3 linked regions of the Homo sapiens genome follow. The protein of the gene in region 3 purifies or fractionates together with the protein of the main gene of each other region. This does not show direct contact. Each region holds a gene or a part of one and is shown on either strand. Other genes may lie near its edges. The genes, in order: GBP1, BTF3L4 and CAB39L.

Region 1 (3,658 bases), on a different chromosome or scaffold from region 3:
TACACAAAGGTGAAAGAACAAGAAACTTGTTCTAGAACAATGACAAATGTAATTTAAAATAACATCTATTAATTTGGATATTCAGCAAGTATTAATTTCTAGGAATAGCCAGCTGAAGACATAGAAAACTGCAAATGCTGGAAAACTAGCAATAGTAAACTGAAAAATGATAATTTCTTGTGTTTTCTCATCCTCATTTATCAGTTGAAGCTCTCTGTTACCTTTCTTCAGCTTCAGGGAGTATGTCAGGTACTCATCTGGTGTGAGGGGTTGTCCATCTGCTTCCAAGTCCAGGGAGAAATCTCTCAGTGTCCACACAAAGTCTGGGAAGAAGCTCACAAAGTCAGCTGAATCCTCAACCTCATTCTCATTCTCATCAGGTGAGGATTTTGATCGGATTCTATGTGTCAGCTCTGTCACATAGCTGAGTAGCTAACTAAGGAAATGTGACAAAATGAACAGGGACCTCATCCCATGTTAGTTCAACACATACCCAAACCTTCCATTTTCCTTTGCTCCTAACCTAAGTGTCAGTGTCAGTTCTAAAGTGGATACATGGGATCTCTCCTCTGTACTTGCATTATTTTTTGTTTTCTCCTTTTGAGCTTGATTCATCAGGATTCACAGTCAGGCAGCTGGTGTATGAATACAGGTGTCCCCTCTGACCTTGGTGCTGTTCTGGGTCACAAAAGGATACTACAGTTGGTCCATAGCCTGCTGGTTGATGGTTCCTATGCTATTGTACACGAAGGTGCTGCTCAGGAGGACGGCCAGGGCGAAGATCCAGGAGTCATTCTGGTTGTCACCCTGGAAGTCAAGACACACTGGAGTCAGGAGCAAGTTTCATCATCGCAGCACTTTTCAGAGTAACAGTAGTAAAACTATGTTCATATGTTAGAGGGTTTTTTTTTCTTTTCTTTTTTTTTTTTTTTTTTAACACTAATGACCTATTAAAGGAAGACAAATACAAAAATTATTCTCAGTAGGATGTGGCTTTTGGGTAGTTTTTCGACGAGTGTTTTTGGGTTACCATGATTCTTACTAGGTCTTCTAATGATCATCAACAGATAATTGTAAAATTAAAATTCAAGGTTGGTGGGCATTTTAAGGCCTGAGTACAATGTAAATTTAAAATTTTCTCTTCTTTTTTTCAATAACAGAATTCACATATAAGATTGGTACTATTAGTTGCTATTTTATTGAATAATTAATATACACCTGTAATGTATTATCTTATTAAATATTCAAAATAATACTATATGGCCAACATAGGTCTTTTCCATACATTTTAAAGATTAGAATGCTGAGGCGAAAATAAGTCAATTTTCTCAGGCTACTGAATTAGTGACAGAATTTAAATTTAAATACAAAGTCACATGGCTTTAGCACCCAAATTCTTAACTAAAGTTCTGTGCAGGATAAGACTTATGACACTGGGATTATTTGTGCTCCCTTTATGCATCTGTGTTAACCCACACATATTACAGCCTGTAGTTAATAGTTAATAAACAATTAACCGCTGCATAAAATATTCAGAGAGGAGGGGCTTACTCCACAACTGGATCCTTGAGTCTCACCTTCTCTACATCTCCCAGACCCTCGGTGTCCAGCAGAACTAGGATGTGGCCTGGCTTCTTGGGGTGGGGCACACACCACATCCAGATTCCTTTAGTGTGAGACTGCACCGTGGAGCCCAGAGAGAAGCCTGCAAGGGAGAGAGGAGACCAGCGATGGGGATTTAGTAACAGGCAGTTCTGGCAATTGAAGGAAAAAGTAGTATATTTAAGGTTAAGAGAGAGAACTGAAACAACAATCAGTATTCACCTTACGTACTTACAATCAAAGAAATAGGAAATTTGAATATCCAATGCATGGAAACATTCAGGAGGCTTTCATGATAAAAATAATCAACAAAGTAGAAATAGAAAGACAGCACCTCAACATAATAAATGCCATGTATTAAAAACCCACAGCTAACTTCACATTTAATGATGAAACGTCATAGCTTTTCCTATAACATCATGAACAAGAAAAGGATGCCTACTTTTGTCAATTGCATTCCACAGAACACTGCAAGTCCTATCCAGAGTAATTAGACAAGAGAAGCATAAAGGAGGCATCCTAATTGGTAATGAAAAAGTAAAATTATCTCTGTCTGCTGATGATAGTATCTAATTTGTAGAAAACATTAACTATCCCACAAAAAACTATTAGAACTATTAAAACAATTCATCAAAGTTGCAGCATGCAAAGTCAATATGGAGAAATCAGTTGCTAGTGTAAAAAATAGAAAAGGAAATTTTGGAAACAATCCAATTTAACAGCATCAAAAGAATAAACTACTTAGGAATCAGCTTAACCAAGCAGGTGGAAGACTTGTAGAGTGAAAACTTCAAACACCCTTTAAAGAAATTATAGATGACATAAGTTATTAGAAAGACATCCTGTGTTTATGGATTGGAAGACTTAATATTCTTAAGATGTCACTACTACCCAAAGTGATGTACAGGTTTGATATAATCCCTACCAACATTCCAATTACTTTGTATAAATAGAAAAATCCACCATAAATTTCATATGAAATTTCCAGAGATCCCCTAATTATAAAAATAAAAAGGAAGAGCAAAGTTGGAGTCTCACAGTTTCTGAGTTGTGAAACGTATTACAAAACCATGTGTGGTACTGGTATAAAGACTGACATATAAACCAATAGAATAGAAAAGACAGCCCATGAATAAACTCTGATATATATGGTCAAATGATTTCCAGTATGGGTGTCAAGATCATTTAATGAAGAAAGGAGAGTCTCTTTAACAAATGATGTTGAGGAAATGATATATCTCCTTAAAAAGTTGGGCTATTACCTTATAACTTACAAATATGAACTCAAAATGGATCAAAGAACCAAACATTAGAGTTGAAACTATAAAAGTTGTAGAAGAAAATAAAGGGTAAAAGTTTTATAATATTGGATTTGGAAATTATTTTTTGAATAAGAAACCAAAACTATAGACAATAAAAGAAAAAATAGATTAGTGGGACTTCAGCAAAATTTAAAACTTTTGTGTATTAACGGACACTATCAACAGAGTTAAAAAAGGCAACACACGGAATGTAAGAAAATGGTTTCTAAACATGTATATGATAAGGGATTGATATCTAGAAAATATAAAAAAATTTACAAAGCAACAGAAATAAACAACCAGATTAATAAATGAACAATGGACTTGAATAGACATTCTCCCAAAGAAGATATACAAGTGGCCAATAAGCACGTGAAAAGATGCTCAACATCACTAGTCATTACGGAAATCAAAATCAAAACCACAACGAGATACTACTTAACTTCCATTCGTATGGCCACTATAAAAAAAAAAAACCACTGAAAATAAAAAATGTTGGTGAGGATGTAGAGAAATTAGAACCCTTGTGCATTTCTGTTGAGAATGTAAAACGGTACAGTCACTGTGGAAAATGGTATAGTGATTTCTTAAAAAAAGTTAACATGCAATGACTGCATGAGCCAGCAATTCCCCTTCTGGGTATATTCCCAAAAGAAGTGAAAGCAGGGACTTGAACAGATATTCAGACACCCATGTTCCTATTAGCATTATTTATAATAGACAAAAGGTGGAAGAAATCCAAGTGTCCATTGACA
Region 2 (3,658 bases), on a different chromosome or scaffold from region 3:
AAAAAAAATTATCCGGGTGTGGTGGTGGGCGCCTGTAATCCCAGCTACTCTGGAGACTGAGGCAGAAATTTCTTGAGCCCAGAAGGCAGATGTTGCAGTGAGCAGAGATCACACCACTGCACTCTAGCCTGGGTGACAGAGTGAGATTCTGTCTTAAAAAACAAAAAAACAAATGGAATCATCAGGCAGAGGTGCATCTAGGTGGTAACATCACAAGTAGTTGTTGTTATTTATTAAGTATCTTCTGGAATAACATTAATCTTTGGTCTCATATTTGAGAAAAATAGTGTCATCAAAATACAATAAACTGACATACAATTTTTTTTTTTGAGACGGATGCTCACTCTGTCACCCAGGCTGGAGTGCAATGGCACAATCTTGGCTCACCGTAACCTCCGCCTCCTGGGTTCAAGTGATTCTTTTGCCTTAGCCTCCCGAGTAGCTGGGATTACAGGCATGTGCCACCACAGCTAGCTAATTTTTGTATTTTTAGTAGAGACAGGGTTTCACCATGTTGGCCAGGCTGCTCTTGAACTCCTGACCTCAGATGATCTGCCTGCCTAGGCCTCTCAAAGTGCTGAGATTACAGGCGTGAGCCACTGCACCCGGCTGACTAATACATTTTAAACAATTTTTGAAACAGTTTTAATAAGAAATCTAACCCATGTAAAGCTACTGCTAAAGCCTTTTGGCTGAGGTAGTAACTAATGAGGCTCTGTAAAATATACAGGTGCATTAGGGTAAAAAAGTCTACCTCTATTGAGCCATGAGTCCAAAATCTTAAATAATAAAAAAAAGTCTGGCCGGGCGCGGTGGTTCACACCTGTAATCCCAGCACTTTGGGAGGCCGAGGCAGGCGGATCATCTGAGGTCAGGAGTTTGGGACCAGCCTGGCCAGCATGGTGAAACCCCGTCTCTACTAAAAACACAAAAATCAGCCGGGCATGGTGGCACGCACCTGTAGTCCCAGCTACTTGGGAGGCTGAGGCAGGAGAACCGTCTGAACCCGGGAGGCAGAGGTTGCAGTGAGCCAAGATCGTGCCATTGCATTCCAGCTAGGGTGACAGAGTGAGACTCCATCTCAAAAAAAAAAAAAAAAGGTCTATCTCATCTGAGGAAATGTTGGGGTTTATTTCTACATTATTAGAGACATATTTTATATTAATATTCAAGAACACTTACATAATTTTGCCATATACGCAAATATCTTGAGCTTGAAAAGTATGATGAAAATCCTTAACTGTCTACTAAAATTATTTTTTTGACCATCATTTAATTTCATACAAAAATCAAAGTGCCACAGTCCTTCAAAGACATCAGAGTGACAATATCAAAGATTTTTCTAAGCTGATATTTTACATCTGAAAGGTCCAGACAATTATTTGTGCATGTACCCACACAATTTAACAACTTGCAAAGTGATCATACCTCTTCAATACCAGCTATATTATTCACAGCCAGTTTTTTTAGAGAACTCTGAAGCTTTTTGTCATCAGCTGTGGCTGTTCTATGTACCACCTTCTTCTTTCTGCGAGCTGTACCCTGAAAAATAACCAAACAGAAGCAGAAGTGTTAGCATGCCTGGCATCTGGCAACTGCAATCACATCTTACGTATCACAATAATCTAAAACCCACATTAAAAAATGGACAAAATAATAATGATTAATGTTATAAGACTTCTCAGAGGTTGTGATTGTCAGCCTAACGCAGATTTCTAAAGGTTGGTTCTAGCCAGTTCCTTTTTTTTCCTTATCAGCTTTTTCAGGTTGAATTATTCTTATCTAATATCCAGCCTTTGTCATTTCAACACAAGATACTGTTTGCTAATAAAACATAATTTATAACTTCAAGACAATTTAAATACTTTATAACAATTTTAAAACATTATCTTTTCTTATAGTAACTACCACCCCCTGCCAGTAGTCTAAAGATATTCTGAAATTTGGGGAATTAGGACATAACTGAAAATTAATGTCTACATTACAGTAGGAGGAAAAAAATCAATAAATATATAAACAAATCAGATAATTTCAAATGGGATTAAGTACTATTAAGAAAAAAGCAAAACTAGAGCACAGCAAGAATGACTAAGTAGGGGCAAAGCAATACTTTATTAGAAGGTCCAGGAAAGCCCCCTCTGAAGAGGTAACATATGAGTTGAGACCCATAACTAGGGCAAGAATGATCAAAGCAGAATGAAACAAGGTTGAACTTGTCCTTTCTAGAAGAGAGAAAATGGGCCAGTATGGCTAGAGCAGAGTGAATAATGGGAACGGAAGAGGAATATGAAATCAGAAAGATAGGCAAGGACCAGATTATGTAGCCTAGAATGCCATGGGCAGGAGCTAGATTTTATTGATTGCAATGGGAAGCCATTGAAAGGTTTTAAGCATGGGAGTGACTTGATCTGATTACTTATGACTGAAGTTGCTATGTAGAAAATGGATTATAAAGAGACCAGTCAGGAGGCTCCTGTAGCCGTCCTGGCCAGAGATGAGGGATATGGCAGTGAAGATGGTGAGGGGTCAGATTCTCACAAGAGACCACATGACTTTGCTGATGGATTACACGTGGGATATGAGAAAAAGAGGACATTTGGATGATGCTTAGAATCTTGGCCTGAGCAAACAGGTTGAAAATTATACTAGTTACTGAGAAAGAAAAAGTTCATTTCTAAATTGATACTGTGAAACTCTAAATACATTTTTCCATTGAAATACTATTTAAAATAATGGATTCCTGGATCAGTTTATTAAGTCTTGAGGGTTAAATCTTTCTAAAACTGGTAGGAGTAAGGAGAAAGGAATAGTGGTTTCAATCTCTGGGTAGCTCCTATAGTAGTACTCAGGGAATCAGCCTTATAGAGGTAAGGTAGGGGCTTCAGTCTCAGCAATTCCGGTGGGAGTGGAGGAGAGATCTGACAGCAGAGGATGCCTTGAAATCTAGTTGCTGAAGGACTGACTATTTACATAGGCACTCATTTGTGAAGCATTCCTGACTCAGGGATAGCTCAACTGCTTGGTGCTTGTTCAACTCGAATGATCCTCAGGCACCTCAAATTCAATATGTCTTAAAGCTTATCAGTCCACCAATCTATTCTTATTTCCTAACTTTTGTAGCTGGTGGTACCACCATATACTCAAGTCTCTAAAATCATGAATCTGAGGGTTATCCTAGATTCTTCTGCATGCCCTTTACCCCCCATATCCCATCAGTCACTAAATCGTGTCAATTCCAACTCCTAAATTTGTATCCCATATAATAGAGGTCCCCAACCCCCAGGCCACTGACCAGTACCAGTCTGTGACCTGTTAGGAACACGGCAGCACAGCAGAAGGTGGGGTAGGGGGCATGAGCGAGCATTACTGCTTGGGCTCCACAGCCAGTCAGATCAGCGGCAGCATTAGATTCTCATAGGAGGGCGAACCGTTGTGAGCTGCGTATGCGAGGAAACTAGGATGCGCACTCCTCATGAGAATCTAACTAATGCCTGATGATCTAAGGTGGAACAGTTTTATCCCAAAACCATCATCCTCCCATCCGTGGAAAAACTGTCTTCCACGAAACCAGTCCCTGGTGCCAAAAAGATTGCGGACTGCTGCCTTAGACTCTAGCAATAGCGTCTCAATTGTTCGCCTATAGGCCAAACTTCCATTT
Region 3 (3,658 bases):
AGATGACTAAGTTTTGGTATGTTTGTCTGCAAATTAGCTGCACTCTTTTCTGATATATTCTCTGAACATTTTTTTGATGATAAAATACAGAAACCAAAAGTAAAATGATTGTCAGGGGCTGGAGGGAGGAGGAAATGGGGAGTTATTATTTAATAAGTATAGAGGTAGAGTTTGAATTTTTCAAAATAAAAAAGTTCTGGTAGTTGGTTGCCTAACAATGTGAATATATTGCATCCTACGATTTCCTACATAGTGACAAAGTAGATAATACATGATCAAACTATAGATGATTATGAAACAACGACAATATAATTTCTTACTATTTTGTTTCACCATGTGGACATTTAAAAATTTCATTCATAAAATAACATGATGTCCTTCATATTCAAAGATGTAATTCTCCATCTCCCTTCACTACCTAGTTCCTTTCCCCAGAATTAATCACTGTTGCTGTTTCCTATGCATCCTTGCAGAGGTATTCAGTGCATATGTACCTTAAGTGGAAGCTTATGCCCTTTAATCTGTTTTTAACATAAATGACAGCATGCCACACACAGAGCACTACATATTCCTTTCCCACGTAACTGTATATACTGGAATTCACTCCATTTGAGCTTGTGACAAATATTTTGAGTTGTTTTCCTGCAATAGGACAGACTGGCCTCATAGACTGCATTCTATTTACAGATTCCTCTTATGATCCACATCATACATGGTTGGCTACACTGAGGCCTAAGAAGTAAAATTTCTTGCTTTTTAAAATTAAATTGCCTCTTCAGGGGCCAAGTGACTATAAATTGACCTAGCTGAGTTGGAAAAAAAAAATTACCTTGAAAGTAGCAAAGGCATCTGAAGCAATATCAAATGTTGACAACTCCACGTACTTAAAGAAATCTCTGAATTGATTAGAAAAGAGGATGATTTTGGCAAGTGGTTCATGTCGAATACATTCTCTCAGCATAATCCCACAACGTAAGGCAATCTGTGGGGCTTCATATCTAAAGCGTAAACAAGAGAGAAATAGAGAACTCTGTTATCCTATTAAAATAATATTAATGGCATCAAAAGAACCATTTCAATACTGCTATTAATGGAAGCATACATACCATTTGTCACGATTCATTCAATATCCACTGAAGATCTACTATGTGCCTGGCACTATTGCAGACGTATTCTGGAATTTGAGTGTATTCTGAAACACTTAGATATACTCAAATATGAACATGGTGACAGCTGGGGGTGGGGGGATGAGGCAGAATGTAAACAATGAAAAGATAATTTCATACACTGAGAAGGGCTGTAAAAACTGTTGACAATAAAATACGCCACATTATAAAGGTGACTAAATTGTGTGTGTGTGTGTGTGTGTGTGTGTGTGTGTGTGAGTGACTACTTAAGTTACTTTACTTTAGACTCAAGGAAAAGGCAAAATGTTCCAGGCAAAGGGAAAAAACTGTTCAAAGGCTCCATGGCAAGAACAGGCTTGGCGAAACAGAGAAGGAGGAATAAAGCCTGTGTGATTCGATTGTAGAGGAAGAACCGTGAGTGGTGTGAAATGAGGCAGGGGTGGAGAGAAGGGCAGGGGCCAGATCCCAGATCAGATACAGCTTTGTCAGCCAAGGTAAGCAGTTGGTTTTATTTTAAGTGTAATGGGAAGCCTTTGGAGAGTTTAAAGCAAGAAATTGACAAGACTAACTTATGCTTTAAAAAGATCACTCTGGCTTCTTGTTGAGAATGTCTGTAAAACAGCAGGAGACATATAAGAACAGGAGCAGAACCCAGGAGAGGGAACGGGGGCTTGGCCTGGGGTGGCAGGAGCAGAACAGAGGACTGTGGGCAGGTGGTGGATACTGTTCGGAGGAAGAGTCAACAAGACTTGCTGATGATGTAGCTGGAGTTGGGTGAGGGAATAAATTTGGAAACTGAGAATTCACGAATGATTCCTATGTTTTTGGCTTGAATCACTGGGTAGATGGTGGTGCTATTTATTAAGATGAATAAACTAGTAGAGGAACAAGTTAGTAAAGAAATTAAGAGTTTGTGGTTGACCACATTAGTTTTGAGATGGCTGATATCTAAGTAGAAAGGTCTCCTTGGCAGTATGATACACTTATCTGGACTTTAGGAAAAAGATAGGAGAGACCTATATAAATATATGATTTGCATGCAGTAGGTGGCTAATACATAGCTGTGGACTGATTGACTCACTTAAATCCTAAGTGGAATCATGGCTCACAGCAAAAAATATGCTAGACAAACGAAACGTCTACTGTGGGAAACAATTCAGGACTGGCATACCAGATTGGTTCCATTTCTAATACAACAACAATCTCTCAAAGTCAAATTCAGTCTCTAAGTAAGTTTAAGATATATTCCAGTGTGTGATAAGATTTCAAGAAAATGAATAATGCTTAGCCCAAGTACAACAAGCCCTGTATTGAAATAATACAGTTGACAATTGTGTGGTAAATATAGGAAGAATAGAACAAAGAAAGATATAGTTGTGATACACTGGGAAGTGAGCAGAATATAGGGCCCCCTCCAAAAAAAAAAATCTGGTGGGGCGTGACTGCTCACTCCTGTACTCCCAGCACTTTGGGAGGCTGAGGTGGATGGACTGCTTATGCTCAGGAGTTCGAGACCAGCCTGGGCAACATGGCTGACTTTACAAAAAATAAAAAAATAAAAAATTTAGCTGAGACCCTGACTTTACAAAAACTAAAAAAATTAGCTGGACATGGTGGCACACGCCTGTAGTCCCAGCTACTCAGGAGGCTGAGGTGGGAGATTGCTTGACCCTGGAAAGTTAAGCGAGACTCTGTCTCCAAAAATAAAAATAAAATAAAATAAAATCTGACCATATTTTTAAAGAGATATCATTGACCATTTCAACTGAATACTAGTTTTTATGGAACTTTTATGATACTATAAAACTTTAAGATATTTTATTACTCATCAACTACTAGTAACAACATTTGTTGAACAATAAGTAATGTACTACTCTTTATAAGATTATAGAATTTTCATGAAAGACAGATTCAAGAATAAAGATTCAATTGAGGAAATAGACTACTTTCCAATATCAAATTTACAAATATTAGTAGAAGAAACAGCAAACAAAGATACCAGGGTGGTATTTATTCATTTTTGTCCTGTTTATGCAGAATGATATTCACAAATATTGAGTATTCCCTGAATAACTCATAGTAACATTAAATGCTGATACATTCAGATAGTCATGATTCTTTGTAGAATATAAGGAATGCCAATTTATAGTGCTAGCAATTTCTCTTATTAGAAAAACCTGAAACTCAGCCTATTGGCTCACAAGGAACAGTTGTCAGGTGGGGTTTTATTAAAGATGTTGTAAAGAGGGGTATATGTTCTGAAATGTAAAGGAGAAAAGCACTGTCATTTATTGATAGAGTACTCAAGAGAGTATAAAATAAAGGCTGTTGGCCTAGAGAAAGAATCTAAGGGAAGGACAATTAAAATCCAGACTTATTGATCAGCAAGATATATGTGGATTTTTGTAATTTGGCCCTAACCTTAACTTTTCAGTTTCATCTCCCATCACATTCGTTATTTCCCTGGAGCCCCTCATTCCCTCAATTGGAATGCCCTTCTTACATTCCCACAACTCAGATGCTTCTCATCT

What was found.
Region 1: the proteins of CAB39L (region 3) and GBP1 purify together in Homo sapiens (affinity purification with mass spectrometry; one large-scale study listed by BioGRID and IntAct). This does not show direct contact.
Region 2: the proteins of CAB39L (region 3) and BTF3L4 purify together in Homo sapiens (affinity purification with mass spectrometry; one large-scale study listed by BioGRID and IntAct). This does not show direct contact.

Annotation. Positions count from the first base shown.
Region 1 is NC_000001.11:89,058,620-89,062,277, forward strand, and holds part of GBP1 (guanylate-binding protein 1), read right to left. Parts: intron 1,706-3,658; coding exon 1,578-1,705; intron 808-1,577; coding exon 698-807; intron 425-697; coding exon 222-424; intron 1-221.
Region 2 is NC_000001.11:52,062,709-52,066,366, reverse strand, and holds part of BTF3L4 (transcription factor BTF3 homolog 4), read right to left. Parts: intron 1,543-3,658; coding exon 1,429-1,542; intron 1-1,428.
Region 3 is NC_000013.11:49,349,915-49,353,572, forward strand, and holds part of CAB39L (calcium-binding protein 39-like), read right to left. Parts: intron 999-3,658; coding exon 830-998; intron 1-829. UniProt on the Homo sapiens protein: Component of a complex that binds and activates STK11/LKB1. In the complex, required to stabilize the interaction between CAB39/MO25 (CAB39/MO25alpha or CAB39L/MO25beta) and STK11/LKB1.